Regions from separate parts of the Homo sapiens genome. Here regions 1 and 3 are each linked to region 2. Evidence: fine-mapped QTL for protein levels in blood plasma. A gene starts in region 2. Each other region holds a variant in brackets. All regions are shown on one strand. Distances are between the middles of the regions.

Region 1 (4,000 bases), 24 kb before region 2:
TGTTCGACTCCACTCTCAGTCACTCGTCACTCTTCCCAGAAGGACAAATGTGCAGCTTCTATGTCTTGGATTTCAAATAAAAGACGAGGAACTTGGTGAAATGAGGTGGTCTTTGCCTTCCGCGTCACTCTCTGCTCCTCCTGGCAAGAGGCCCCATTTTTCTTGCCACTGAGGTTAAGTGAAAACAAAACAAAACAAACAAACAAAAAAGAGGCCCCATTCACAGTAAAGATAAACAGCAGCCTGGGCAGGCCAGCGGCTCTTCCCTGACGTGGAATTATGAGCCCTCTTTCTTCGATTTTGCCACATACCCGCAGCTGCACTCCCATAATCTGAAAGCTGTCCCTTTAATTTTTACCACTTCATTATTAGAATTGGAGTAGAATGAAAATTAATTTTTCCCTGAGCTATTTTTGTGTCCCTTGAGTTAACCAGAAATACCAACCCTGGAAAGAGATGTGGGGGACAGTCATTTTAGAGAGCGGACACCACTGCTGAAGAAGAAGGATATCCCGGTTGGCTGCTCTAGAGCCGGCAGGACGGATGCTGAGGTTGTTCGCAGCAGCGTGTGTGCAGAGCCCCCGGGATCTTGCAGACTGGGATTTGTCAGGGCAGGTGTGGACATTGAGGCTATTTCTAACAAGCTCCTACATGATGCTGGGGCTGCAGAGCCCCAGGCCGCACTTGGAGTATGAGAGTTTCCAGGGAGTGAAGCCCCGGCTGCTCTCTCTGCCCCCTCTCCATCTGCCCCCTGGGTGAGGACAGGACTCCCATCCCTCCAGTGCACAGTGAGTGCTGCTCAATCTGCATCCACAGCGGTTTGTGCCCAGATGCTTCCTCACTCAGCGTCTAACAGGGTGCAGTGGAAACGTCATTGACTGGAGGAAAGGTGTGTGGGTGAGAAACGTTTGTCGGTTGAGTAACTTTTTGTCGTTATTTTTTTTCTCTGATGTTCAAAGTAAGAGAAAACTCATCTGGCCCCTGGAGCCCATGTGAGCAACATGAAAGATAAAGGGAAAAGGGGGCTGATAAAGATGTGGACCGAGTCTGAGATAAGATTCT[T/C]TGCCCCTTGGGTGAATCCAGGTGAAGTTGTTTTACTCTTAGCCCAGCCAGCCCTGGATAAAGGCTTCATCCCTCTTCTCTTTCCTGTCCATATATCAGAACTTTAAGCTCTACTTGTACCCAGTGAAGATTAGAATAACGCACGGAGCACAGGAAATGTCTAGGTGATGATTTCACTGAGCTTTACAAGGGACACAGGTACGCATCAAGAGCTTGGGCCACTGGGTAAAGAGGGATCTGGTTCTTGCTCTAACGCGGTTCATCTTCTGTGTCAGAATCAGATAGATTCTGGGTGTCAGAGACCCGAATCTTCCTCTTGTTCCGCTCACTGCCCCCCTGTGGCCCCTTCTCATTTCAAATGCTCTGTCTGTAATATGAAATGAAAAGAATTCCTCCCAGACCCCTAGCCAAATTTCACCTTAAGCTCGTTGACTCCCAGAGGAAATCTCTGTGGGAGACTGGAAAGAGGACGCTGGAGCCAGAGGCTATCTTTGATAGTGAGGTGAGGTTTACTGTTTAATAAGAACTCCAAAGATATGCCTAATATTGAAGGTTGTCTCTCGCTTCCTTGGGAAACCCAAACCAGAAGTTTAGGCCGTATAGAAAGTAAGTGGTTTGGGTGCAAAAGGGATGTAGAACATCCCTTTTAATGGTATCATAGAATATGAGAACTAGAAGAGAGCTCAAAGATCATTTAGGCCAACCTCTACATTTTATAGATAAGAACACTGGGCCTGTGGTCATTCCACAAGTTTGTGGCAAGCCTTGGATTACAACAGATCACCAGGTTCCCTGACTCCTAGTTCAGTGCTTTTCCAACACCCAGAATCATAATCTTCAGGAAGGAGCGTGCTTTTCACCTATCTGTTGAAGGTTATCTCTTACAAAGAGGTGGAGCTATGTCTAAACTATCTGGGTGCTGGGAGGTGTTTGTGTGATGTTGTGGTTTAGTTCAGATTATTATCTTTGAAGAAGTCAGAGGGCCCAGGCCCTCCATTTGGGGTTATCTATATAATAATAACTATGATGTCTGAGCCCTGCCTATGTGCTGCTTCTTTGCATATATTACCTTCAATGCTCACCATGGCTCTGGAAGGTAGATACTGTCATCCCCACTTTAGAAAGCAAGAGATTGAGGTTCAGAGAGATTAAGTAAGTTGGCTAAACCACACAGCTCAAGGTGGTGGGACAGGAGTCACGTGAAAGTCTACTATTGCTGCCCTCATGTCAGCCTTCTAAAAAATCTCACTTTTACTTTCAGGAAATTCTTTCAAATAGCAAACATAAATGCGCACAAAGAAGCAAGGAGGAAGAGGAGGGAACTGTGTAGAAAAGGTTTGTGGAGGCAATTTGTTCTAAGGTTATTTATTATTTGAGAGGAAGGCTATGATATTGGTTAAATCTAGGCTTTGTAAAGTCTGGATTCATGTTAAGATGTTAAAAATTACATCTAAAATGACAGAGTAAAGTGAATAACTTACAAGCTATTGGAAGAAAATAAAATAGGATAAAAACTTACTTAAATCAAAAGAAGGGGGAAATGCATAGAAAGAGAAGGTAAAAAATAAAGAACAAAATAAGACAGTGGAAATTCATCAAACTATATCAGTAATAATTATCAATGTGGATAGATTAACCCTGCAGTTACAGAATGTTGGACTGCATATATTTTTAAAAATATGCAGTTATATGATGTTTATAAGAGACATGCTTAAAGCATAAATGCTCCAAAAGTTTGAAACTAAAAGAATGGACAATTGAATCCAAGGAGTTATATTAACATCAGACTTCAAGGCAGAAGCATTAATAGAAATACAGAAGTCAGTACGTATTGCTAAAGATTCAATTCACCAGGAAAACATAAAAATGCTATATGTGTATGCACTCAAAAACATCACTTCAAAATATACAAATCAAGAATCAGGAAAACATAACACTTACGTACTTCTATGCACCCAATAACATAACTTCAAAATACACAAAGCAAATATTGACAAAACAAGGATAAATTTAGAAATCTACTATCATAATGAGAAATTTTAACAGTGTCTTCCTTTATGATGGATAGGACAGACAGAAAATCAGTAAGAACAATCAAATGTGATAACCACAATTAACAAATTTGATTCCAACAATAGCAGAGCCCACTCTTTTTTCAAGCACACATGGGACATTTACAAGGCAGTAGAGGAGTTGAAGGCAAGTTAGGGGCAAAGAGTGGGTATCTATGGGGTAGGAAAATGGAAGTCTAGATAAGGAATAAACAGAAGGAAATGTTGAAGGTAAAGCTCTGGGTGTCAGAATCTTCCTCCTCTTTCACTCACTGGCTCACTGTGGTCCCTTCTCATTTCAGATGCTCCGTCTGTAACACGAAATGAAAAGAATTCCTCCCAATCATGTAACCATAGGAGCTTCTCATACACCCCAAGCCATTTCCTTTTACCATGCTGATATGTCCTTTTAGGCCTCTTGACATAGTACCCCTTGCTGGGAATCCTGCCCCTGCCCATGAGCCAGGCAACAGAATGAAGGCTGCTCTTAACTATAAGGTGCCTGAAAGGTGGGTGGGAGTTCAACTGGAAGGTTAGGCACGTCAGGCCATTCTGGCAGAGAATGTGTAAAAGTGTAAAACAGCATCATCATATGGAAGATACAAGAGACTACAGGTAGAATGTTTTGCTGAAGCATGAATCGTGAGGGTATGAAGGATGGAAATATGAGGATCAGTTGAAATAACATAAGTGACATTGAAATCTGTAAAATGCTCCACAAATTTTGATTGTTGCTACAATGACCTCTTGAGCGGTGTTGTTTTTAGAACCCAATGATAAAATATATAGTTACTTTCTAAGCTGAAAAACAATAATTAAAGCGTTCATTGCTTAAAGCTTGATTGTGTCACAACGAGGAAATAGAGTTTCTTTTGAATTCATATTCT
Region 2 (4,226 bases):
AATAGCTAGAAATAACACGAGTTTACTTGAAATGTGTCTTCCAGAGGCAGAGCATGATTAATTGTCAAGATTTTCCTGTTCTTGGCTTAGACTGAGTTAGCAAAGACCCTGTGGATGTAGAAATCACATTGAAAAACCTTCCTAAAAGTATGCCCTCTTTATAAGAACGGCACGATGGACTCTGAGGACTCAGGGGAAAGGGTGCGAGGTGGGTGAGGGAAAAGAGACTACGCACTGGGTACAGCATACATGCTCAGGTGATGGGTGCACCAAAATCTTACAACGCATTGGGTACAGCATACATGCTCAGGTGATGGGTGCACCAAAATCTTACAAATCACCACTAAAGAACTTATTCATGTAACCAAACACCACCTGTCCTCCAAAACCTATTAAAATAAAACACATAGGTCAGGCGCGATGGCTCACACCTGTAATCCCAGCACTTTGGGAGGCCATGGCTGGTGGACCACAAGGTCAGGAGTTTGAGACCAGCCTGACCAATATGGTGAAACCCCATCTCTACTAAAAATACAAAAATTAGCTGGTCGTGGTGGTGCACGCACCTGTAAACCTAGCTACTCAGGAGTCTGAGGCACGAGAATTACTTGAGCCCATGAGGTGGAGGTTGCAGTGGACTGAGATCACGCCACTGCACTCCAGCCTGGGCAACAGAGTGAGACTCTGTCTCAAAAAGTAAAAAAAAAATAAATAAAAATGTAATAAGTAAATAAAATGCCCTCTTTAAAGACACTCCTACATCTGGGCCAGTACACAGCCCAGCATGACTGGGCACTTCCCCTAAACAAGCAAGCAGACTCCTGAAATGCATCATTATGTTTCATTTCTTAATAAATTCTTTCTACAGCCAGTTAGCATTCTACTTGTTGCCATTATAGACTTTCAAAAAACACTATAAACTTTCTTATCTGTCTTCCTGAGTAAGCAAAGGGAAGACATTATTAGAAAATTCACACTCAATTAGGAAGAGTGGTTTGAGGTAGAAGTTGGTGGTTTTTTATTTCTTTAAAAAAAAATATTGGCCAGGCACGGTGGTTCATGCCTGTAGTACCAGCAGTATGGGAGGCCAGGGTGAGTGGATCACTTGAGCCCAGGAGTTCAAGACCAGCTTGGGCAACATGGCAAAAACCCCATCTCTACAAAAAAATAAATTAACCAGGTGTGGTGGCGTATGCCTGTAGTCCCAGCTACTCAGGAGGCTGAGGTGGGAGGATCGCTAAGCCTGGGAGGCGAAGGTTGCAGTAAGCCAATATCGCGCCACTGCACTCCAGTCTGGCTGACAGAGACAGTGTCAAAAAAAAAAAATCTTCGAGAAAATCCATTTGAAACAAGGAATGAAATTTAAAATTTGCATATATAAACACGTATACATATACATATCATGTATATACATAGGATTATGAGAAGTAGTAATGTTCTAAAAGTGAGTATGCATATTTTTAAAAATTTCTGTAAAGTTGCACTTGTAAGGAAATTCCTAGGTGTTATTTCCTAAGACGTAAAAGCAGTGTATACATCCTTGAAGCTAAACTTTTCTGAGATCTTAAATTCTCCCAGTGTTTGATATATGAGTACTCATGTCTCCAGCAAATTAACCTGAACTTAAAGAGCTTCCTGATAGCTTCTTAGTTGGGGGGTGGGAGTGCAGAGAATAAAAGGAAATTCATTGAAGAATAAAAGATAATTTCTTGAGAAACCTGCTCATCGGGACCCTGTTAACATCCAAATATCCCAAATATCATGCCACACTATTCTTCCCAGAATTAATTGTCAAGGACTGAGAAGGACAGGAGAACCTAATGCTATTTCAGGCTCTCTTGACAGACCAAGGAACAGTGAGGCATAAACTGGGGTCCCCGTGGGTCACAGGCAAGAGGTGGAACCCAAGATTCAACTCCCTTCTTGGAACCATCTACCTGGGGACTCCCTCTGGTTCTGTGGCTGGGAAGAGGGATGCCCATCAGCCTTCCCGGAATTCCGGGGGCACCCACAGGCCCTTACCTGCCTGGCAGCCAGGCACCATGATGAACGTGAGCAGTCCCCACATCAGCAGGTATGAATCCATCTTCCTGACCCTTGGGACCAGCCGGGGCAGTGAAGCGGAGGTCTTTCTCTGCAGAAGGCCCAGTTGCCGTCAGCCTCTTTTTGGCATCGCGCCGGAGGATGTGGGATGGGAAGATCGGTCCGCCTGGGCTGTCACCCTTGTGGGTCCATCCAGTCTCTATCGGAGTCAGGAGTTGCTCTCTTTAAGTATTGGGCTGGCGTGTTCAGCCAGGAAACTGCCTAGCACTCTCTTCTCTCATCTCAAATATAGGAAGTGTTTTTTTTTTTTTTTTTTTTTGATGACAATATAGTTTGCGGTAATTTTTCAAACCAGGTTTTTTTTTTCAAGTTCAATTGCTGGAGGTGTGGGCTGGGGTTGATGAGAAGGATTGAACTTCATTTATGAATCCTTTCTTCAGCTACGCCCATAAAAGGAGAGGGAGATTCCCCTGCCGTTGAAGGTAGGGTGAGCAAGCACTTCTTGGCAGTGGTCTCACCCAGCACTTCATAAGCTGAGTCCTCCCCTCAGGGCTGTAACGTCCTCAGGAGTCAGCCGGGACCACCTGGGATGAAGGAGCAAAGTCCTGACAAGATTCTGGTCAGGCAGCCTCCAATATTCAAATAATGGAGAAGGATGCGGCGAACTGAAGGATCCTGAGAATTCATAAATAATTCCCCAAGGCTTATAACCTGTACTAGCCATCATCATTTCACCACAGTGCCCTGGGCTCCTGAAAGTGCATTGTCATTTTATAAGGTGTTTTGCTTCCAGATTTCTTTCTCTTAAAGGATCATGCAAAAAGTGGGCTTTGGTTTTAAACTTTGGATTATTTTGTAAAATTCAGTCTTGCTTATTTATTGATCAGAGCTCTCTTCTGATTATTATGAAATGGTTGAGTGTGTTTTGCTCCCTGGAAATTTGTCTAAGACTTAAAGCCATTGCATAGTTAGAGCAAAACACAATTTTTTAAATACTAGAAAGCAAGCAAAGATATTAACAAAAAGAAAACCCTCCGGGCAAGCCAAGGAATTCAGGGTTCCAAAACACATCACGTTGACTGGGCCTGGTGGCTCATGCCTGTAATCCGAGCACTTTGGTAGACCAAGGTGGGTGGATCACCTGAGGTCAGGAGTTTGAGACCAGCCTGGATGACATGGTGAAACCACCGTCTCTACTAAAAAAAAAAAAAAAAAAAAAAAAAAAAAAAAATTAGCCAGGCGCAGTGGCACACGCCTGTAATTCCAGCACTTTGGGAGGCTGAGGCAGGCAGATCACCTGAGGTCGGGAGTTTGAGACCAGTCTGGCCAACATGGTAAAACCCCATTTCTACTAAAAATACAAAAATTAGCCAGGCGTAGTGGCGGGCGCCTGTAATCCCAGTTACTCAGGAGGCTGAGACAAGAGAATAGCTGGAACCGAGGAGGTGCAGGCTGCAGTGAGCTGAGATTGCGCCACTGCACTCCAGCCTGGGCGACAGAGTGAGACTTCCATCTCAAAAAACTTGTCAAAATATGACAAGATTCTCTTAAATTCCACAGCAGGTATAACTTCCTCTCTAGGAACGTTTCTCACTCTGCGGGCAAGTGCTCCAGTAGAAACTCCTAGTACTCCCACCAAAGTCACGCTCCTTTCTTCTTGGGCATGGGAGTAGAATGCACTTGCTGCCTCTCCTGGAAAATAGCTTATGCTTTAAGTAGTTAATGTGGATTGTCATTATAAAATATTTAAATTTATGTTAATGTCTTTTTTTTTTTTTTTTTGGAGCGCAATGGCACAATCTTGGCTCACTGCAACCTCTGCCTCCCAGGTTCAAGTGATTCTCCTGCGTCAGCCTCCTGAGTAGCTAGGATTACAGGCACGCGTCACCACATCCAGCTAGTTTTTGTATTTTTAGTAGAGACGGAGTTTCACCATGTTGGTCAGGCTGGTCTCGAACTCCTGACCTTAGGCGATTCACCCACCTCGGCCTCCCAAAGTGCTGGGATTACAGGTGTGAGCCACCACGCCTGGCAATTACAAGATTTTTTTAAAGCCATATCACAAAGCCCCCACAATTTTTCTGGTAAATAAGAGGCCCAACTCTTGGTTCTGAGATGGACCATGGTTAAACAAGTCATTGAACTGGCTTTTCTGGTTCACCTTACGGATGAACGCTCTGTCG
Region 3 (4,000 bases), 38 kb before region 2:
TCTGATTAAATCTCTGAATTCCCCACCCACAGCCCCCAACCTGGACATATGGAATTGTATGTGCCCTCTAACCCCAGCCTGTGAAACTGCGCACGTGCTCTGAACTTCCAGACTCTCCCCAACCCTGCATACCCAACAGAGCCTCTGTAAATATCCTCCAGAGCCTCTTCCCCAGCAGGAAGCTGGGTGGCCCTGTCCCAGGCTGGCTCCTGCCATGTGGCACCTTGAACATCACGACTGAACTTGTGTTTTGGTCTCAGGATAAAAGGTTGTTTGACAGCCAGTACAATTCGTAACTGTCTGAACATGTTTGAATTGGGTTTGCTTCTTTCCAATGAAAACACCCAAACTGAGACAATCTTTGAAACATCCCTCAGGCAGAGCCAGCCTTCGAGAAAGGACAACAAGCATTGGCCTCTTTGAAGCCTTCCAATAACTGTGCAGGGTGATATGGGGGAAGTAGAACAAAACAAACAAATGTGCTTGGAAACACCATTCCAGGACAAAGTCGGAAGGGGAAGGAGTAAGAGCATCATGTTGCAACTGTGCCCCTAGATTAGTCTGTTTTAAAAAATAAAATAATGGAAGCTGTAAGTAAATTCAAACTCTTTTAAAATAAGTAATCAGCAGAAAGTTTCCTCATCTAATCTGGGAGACCTGAGGTCTGATTCCAGCCCTACTATGTGAGCTTAACCAAATCTTTTTATCTTTTGTGCATCTCAGTTTCTTCAGTAAGTTGAAGTAACCCTTCCTGGTCCTGACTCATTGTATAGCCAGGCTCAAATGGGATGGTATCTGATACAGTTCTTTGTAAGGTTGTAAAATCAGCAAAGGGCTCTGAAGTCTCCTAAGGCTAGCCTGACCTTAGAAAGCTCAATTCTTCCTAGCAGGTTCTGTGGGTTTTTTTTCTTTTTTGTTTTGTTTTTTTGAGGGGGGACAGAGTCTTCCTCTGTCACTCAGGCTGGAGTGCAGTGATGCAATCTCTGCTCACTGCAACCTCCACCTCCTGATTTCAAGCAATTCTCATGCCTTGGCCTCCTGAGTAGCTGGGACTACAGGCATCCACCACCATGCCCAGCTTAATTTTTGTATGATTGTAGAGACAAGGTTTCACCATGTTGGCCAGGCTGGTCTCGAACTCCTGACCTCAAGTGATCTGCCTGCCTCAGACTCCCACAGTGCTGGGATTACAGGCGTGAGCCACTGCGCCCAGCCCATTTTCTTGACACCATAACTGAATCCCAATTCAGTCGTGGGAAAGCAGAGGGCAGACAAGGGACAGCCACAGTGCCCACTCATGCACAGACTGCTGGCCAGGACACACGCATCTGGAGCTTTTGAGACTCACAAGTGTGGCATGCACATTTTACAACCTTGCCCTGGAAGAAATACTGGGAAGCAAGTAATTTTTTTGCGGTGCGTTGTCTTGTGCTTAAGGGGAAGACGCAGAGCGTTTCCTTGAGGGCAGGGATCGTTGTCACACTCTTGTTTGTGTCTTCTATCAGCAGGGCCTGGCACACAGACCCAACAGACGCTTTTAAGTTGAGTTGAATTTGGGTTGAATTCTATTTGGCCAGTTACCAAACCAGGGAGTAAGCCCAGACCTGGATTGGCTGCCGTCAGATTGGCTTTAGTTGCTGAGCAAACAGCCTCTGAGCAACTCTGCACTAATTCTTGTCTGCAATGATGTCTTGGGAGGACGGAGCCACATGCATGTGTTTATAGAAGGCAGGGCAGACCTTCTTCCTTTGGGTACACATCATCTGCCTGCAGGAGAAGGGTGCGCTAGCAGGAGTTAGCTGGAGGACAGATTCATCTCTCACCTGGAAGGCTCGCTTGGTCCACTGGCTGCATTGGACTTTGCATTTCTGTGGTTTTCCTTTCTTTCTGTTCTTCAGGTTGAGGTGTCACTTGTTTC[G/A]TTGTGTTCCGAGTGGCTAGAAAATATAGATGGAATGATGCAGATAATTTCACAAATGCTTCATAGAAAACACTGTTCATGTATTCATTCACTTGAGAAGCACACCTGTCCAGGGCCCACGATGTGTCTGGTGGTGTCTGGCTGCTGAGCTTACAAATACGAAACCAGAGTATGCCCTCCCAGCACCGGCCTCTGGGTATTCAAGTGCATATGGCAATGCCCACGACATGTTTTTGAGCGTGTGTATACGTGTCTGTGCATGTCATGTATGTTACGTGTCTGTGTATGCCATGTATGTTACGTGTCTGTGTATGTCATGTATGTTATGTGTGCATGTGTGTGTCTCTCACCAAAAGGGACTCCTTGCTTGCTGTCAATTGTCTCTGTGTTGTTTGACAGCAGCAGGAGTGGTCTCACTCCACAACACACTGATCCTTTGCTCCCTAAGGCTGTTCAGAATGCTTGAAGTTAGAGACGCCATCTTAACACAATGACAAGGAAACTTCTAGAACAGCCCTCTCTATTGTGAAGAGTTTGGCAAAGGAGTTGAGTCTGAGTGCCCCAGTGAGGGGGGTGATCAGTATTCCAGCTCAGGATAAAAGAGGGTGTCTAGGTCAGGTGTGGTGGCTCACACCTATAATTCCAGCACATTGGGAGGCTGAGGCAGGAGGACTGCTTGAGCCCAGGAGTTTAAGACCAGCCTGGACAACATGGGGAAACCCCATCACTAACAAAAAATACAAAATATTAGCCAGGCATGGTGGTGTGCGCCTATAAGGCCCAGGCAGGAGAATCACTTGAGGCCAGGAGTTCGAGACCAGCCTGGCCAACATGGCGAAACCCCATCTTTGCTAAAAATAAAAAAATTAGCCAGGCATGGTGGTGCACACCTGTAGTCCCAGCTACTTGGGCAGCTGTGGCACAAGATTCACTTGAACCCAGGAGGTGGAGGTTGCAGTGATCTGAGATTGTACCACCGCACCCCAGCCTGGGCAACAGAGCGAGACTGTCTCAAAAATAAAAATAAAATTGTGTGGCCGGGCACTGTGACTCATGCCTGTAATCCCAGCATTTTGGGTGGCTGAGATGGGCAGATTACTCAAGGTCAGGAGTTTGAGACCAGCCTGGCCAACATGGTGAAACCCCATCTCTACTAAAAATGCAAAAATTAGCCAGGCATGGTGGAGGGTGCCTGTAATCCCAGCTACTCAGGAGGCTGAGGCAGGAGAATCACTTGAAGCCAGGAGGCGGAAGTTGCAGTGAGCCGAGATCGCGTGCCATTGCACTCCAGCCTAGGCAACAGAGTGAGAGTCTGTCTCCAAAAAAAAAAAAAATTGTGTTTAGTGAATGACTTTTCAGGAACCACTAAAATTAGTTATCCTGTAGACTGGACTGGCCCATTTGTGTCTATAGGGCTGAGTGAACAAAAGCTGGGCTCTGTCTCACTCTTTGCTGCAGTTCTTTTGTTCTTGGTAGTCACAGAAGGGACACTTACCAGAGCTTGTGCATTGACATTGGTTGTCCCAGGACGAGTGGCTAGAGTTTCCTGTACAGAGCATATAGAGTGACCCGCTTTTTATTCTGCGGAAACCTCTCTTGCATTCACAGTTCAACATGGTTCCTTCCTTGTAGGCCATGGCTTTGAATGTGGCGTGTGGGATCTCTGGCGGGTCATCGTCACAGAGCTCTGCAAAGCAAAAGAAGCCTATTAGGAACTCAAGAGGCCCCAGGCAAGTACTCACATATTTAATCCTATAATGACTTAATCACATATTTCTTCACTTTATTTAAAAGATGGTATGCCCTACTTTTTGTGAGAAAGCAACTAAGGCTGCTACCATTGTTCTTTAGAAAGCTTTGTATCAGAGCTGGCTCAAAAATTAACTACAACCAAGCTCCTCTCCAAAGCACAATGTATTTCAAACTAGATGAGTAGAAATTAACAAGGTTTTATTCCGAATATGCCTCATGTCAAGCAAGTATGGAGAGAGGAGGGTCAAGGAATGTGAAGAAAGGAAGAAGCAAAGTTACGTACATTTAATTGAGGGGCAAAATATGTCTGTGCAAGATACTTTTAAGGAT

The links. PIP is the posterior inclusion probability: the model's chance that the variant is causal. Protein levels are from antibody-based Olink assays in UK Biobank. Linkage for the fine-mapping came from a reference panel and not from the study's own genotypes, which makes the PIPs less certain.
Region 1: its variant is fine-mapped to the plasma level of the IL2RA protein (UK Biobank, PIP above 0.99).
Region 3: its variant is fine-mapped to the plasma level of the IL2RA protein (UK Biobank, PIP above 0.99). The variant lies in the coding sequence of IL2RA. If it changes the protein, the assay may bind it differently, which can mimic a change of level.

What each region holds. Positions count from the first base shown.
Region 1 is chr10:6,036,319-6,040,318 of GRCh38, forward strand. All of the region lies in intron 1 of IL2RA (interleukin 2 receptor subunit alpha), which reads right to left. IL2RA-AS1 (IL2RA antisense RNA 1) reads left to right here. Exons shown (of 2, transcript XR_001747349.2): 2 at 1-104. Among named protein-coding and RNA genes, the nearest start is that of IL2RA-AS1, 2.9 kb to the left of the region's middle. RefSeq lists a silencer at 2,187-2,246. The variant T/C (reference allele first, on the strand shown) is at 1,063.
Region 2 is chr10:6,060,066-6,064,291 of GRCh38, forward strand. IL2RA (interleukin 2 receptor subunit alpha) reads right to left here and starts at 2,302. Exons shown (of 8, transcript NM_000417.3): 1 at 2,023-2,302. The coding sequence starts at 2,086. RefSeq lists an enhancer at 2,013-2,062 and a cis regulatory region at 2,055-2,685.
Region 3 is chr10:6,022,421-6,026,420 of GRCh38, forward strand. IL2RA (interleukin 2 receptor subunit alpha) reads right to left here. Exons shown (of 8, transcript NM_000417.3): 2 at 3,414-3,605; 3 at 1,824-1,934. Among named protein-coding and RNA genes, the nearest start is that of IL2RA-AS1, 11 kb to the right of the region's middle. The variant G/A (reference allele first, on the strand shown) is at 1,919.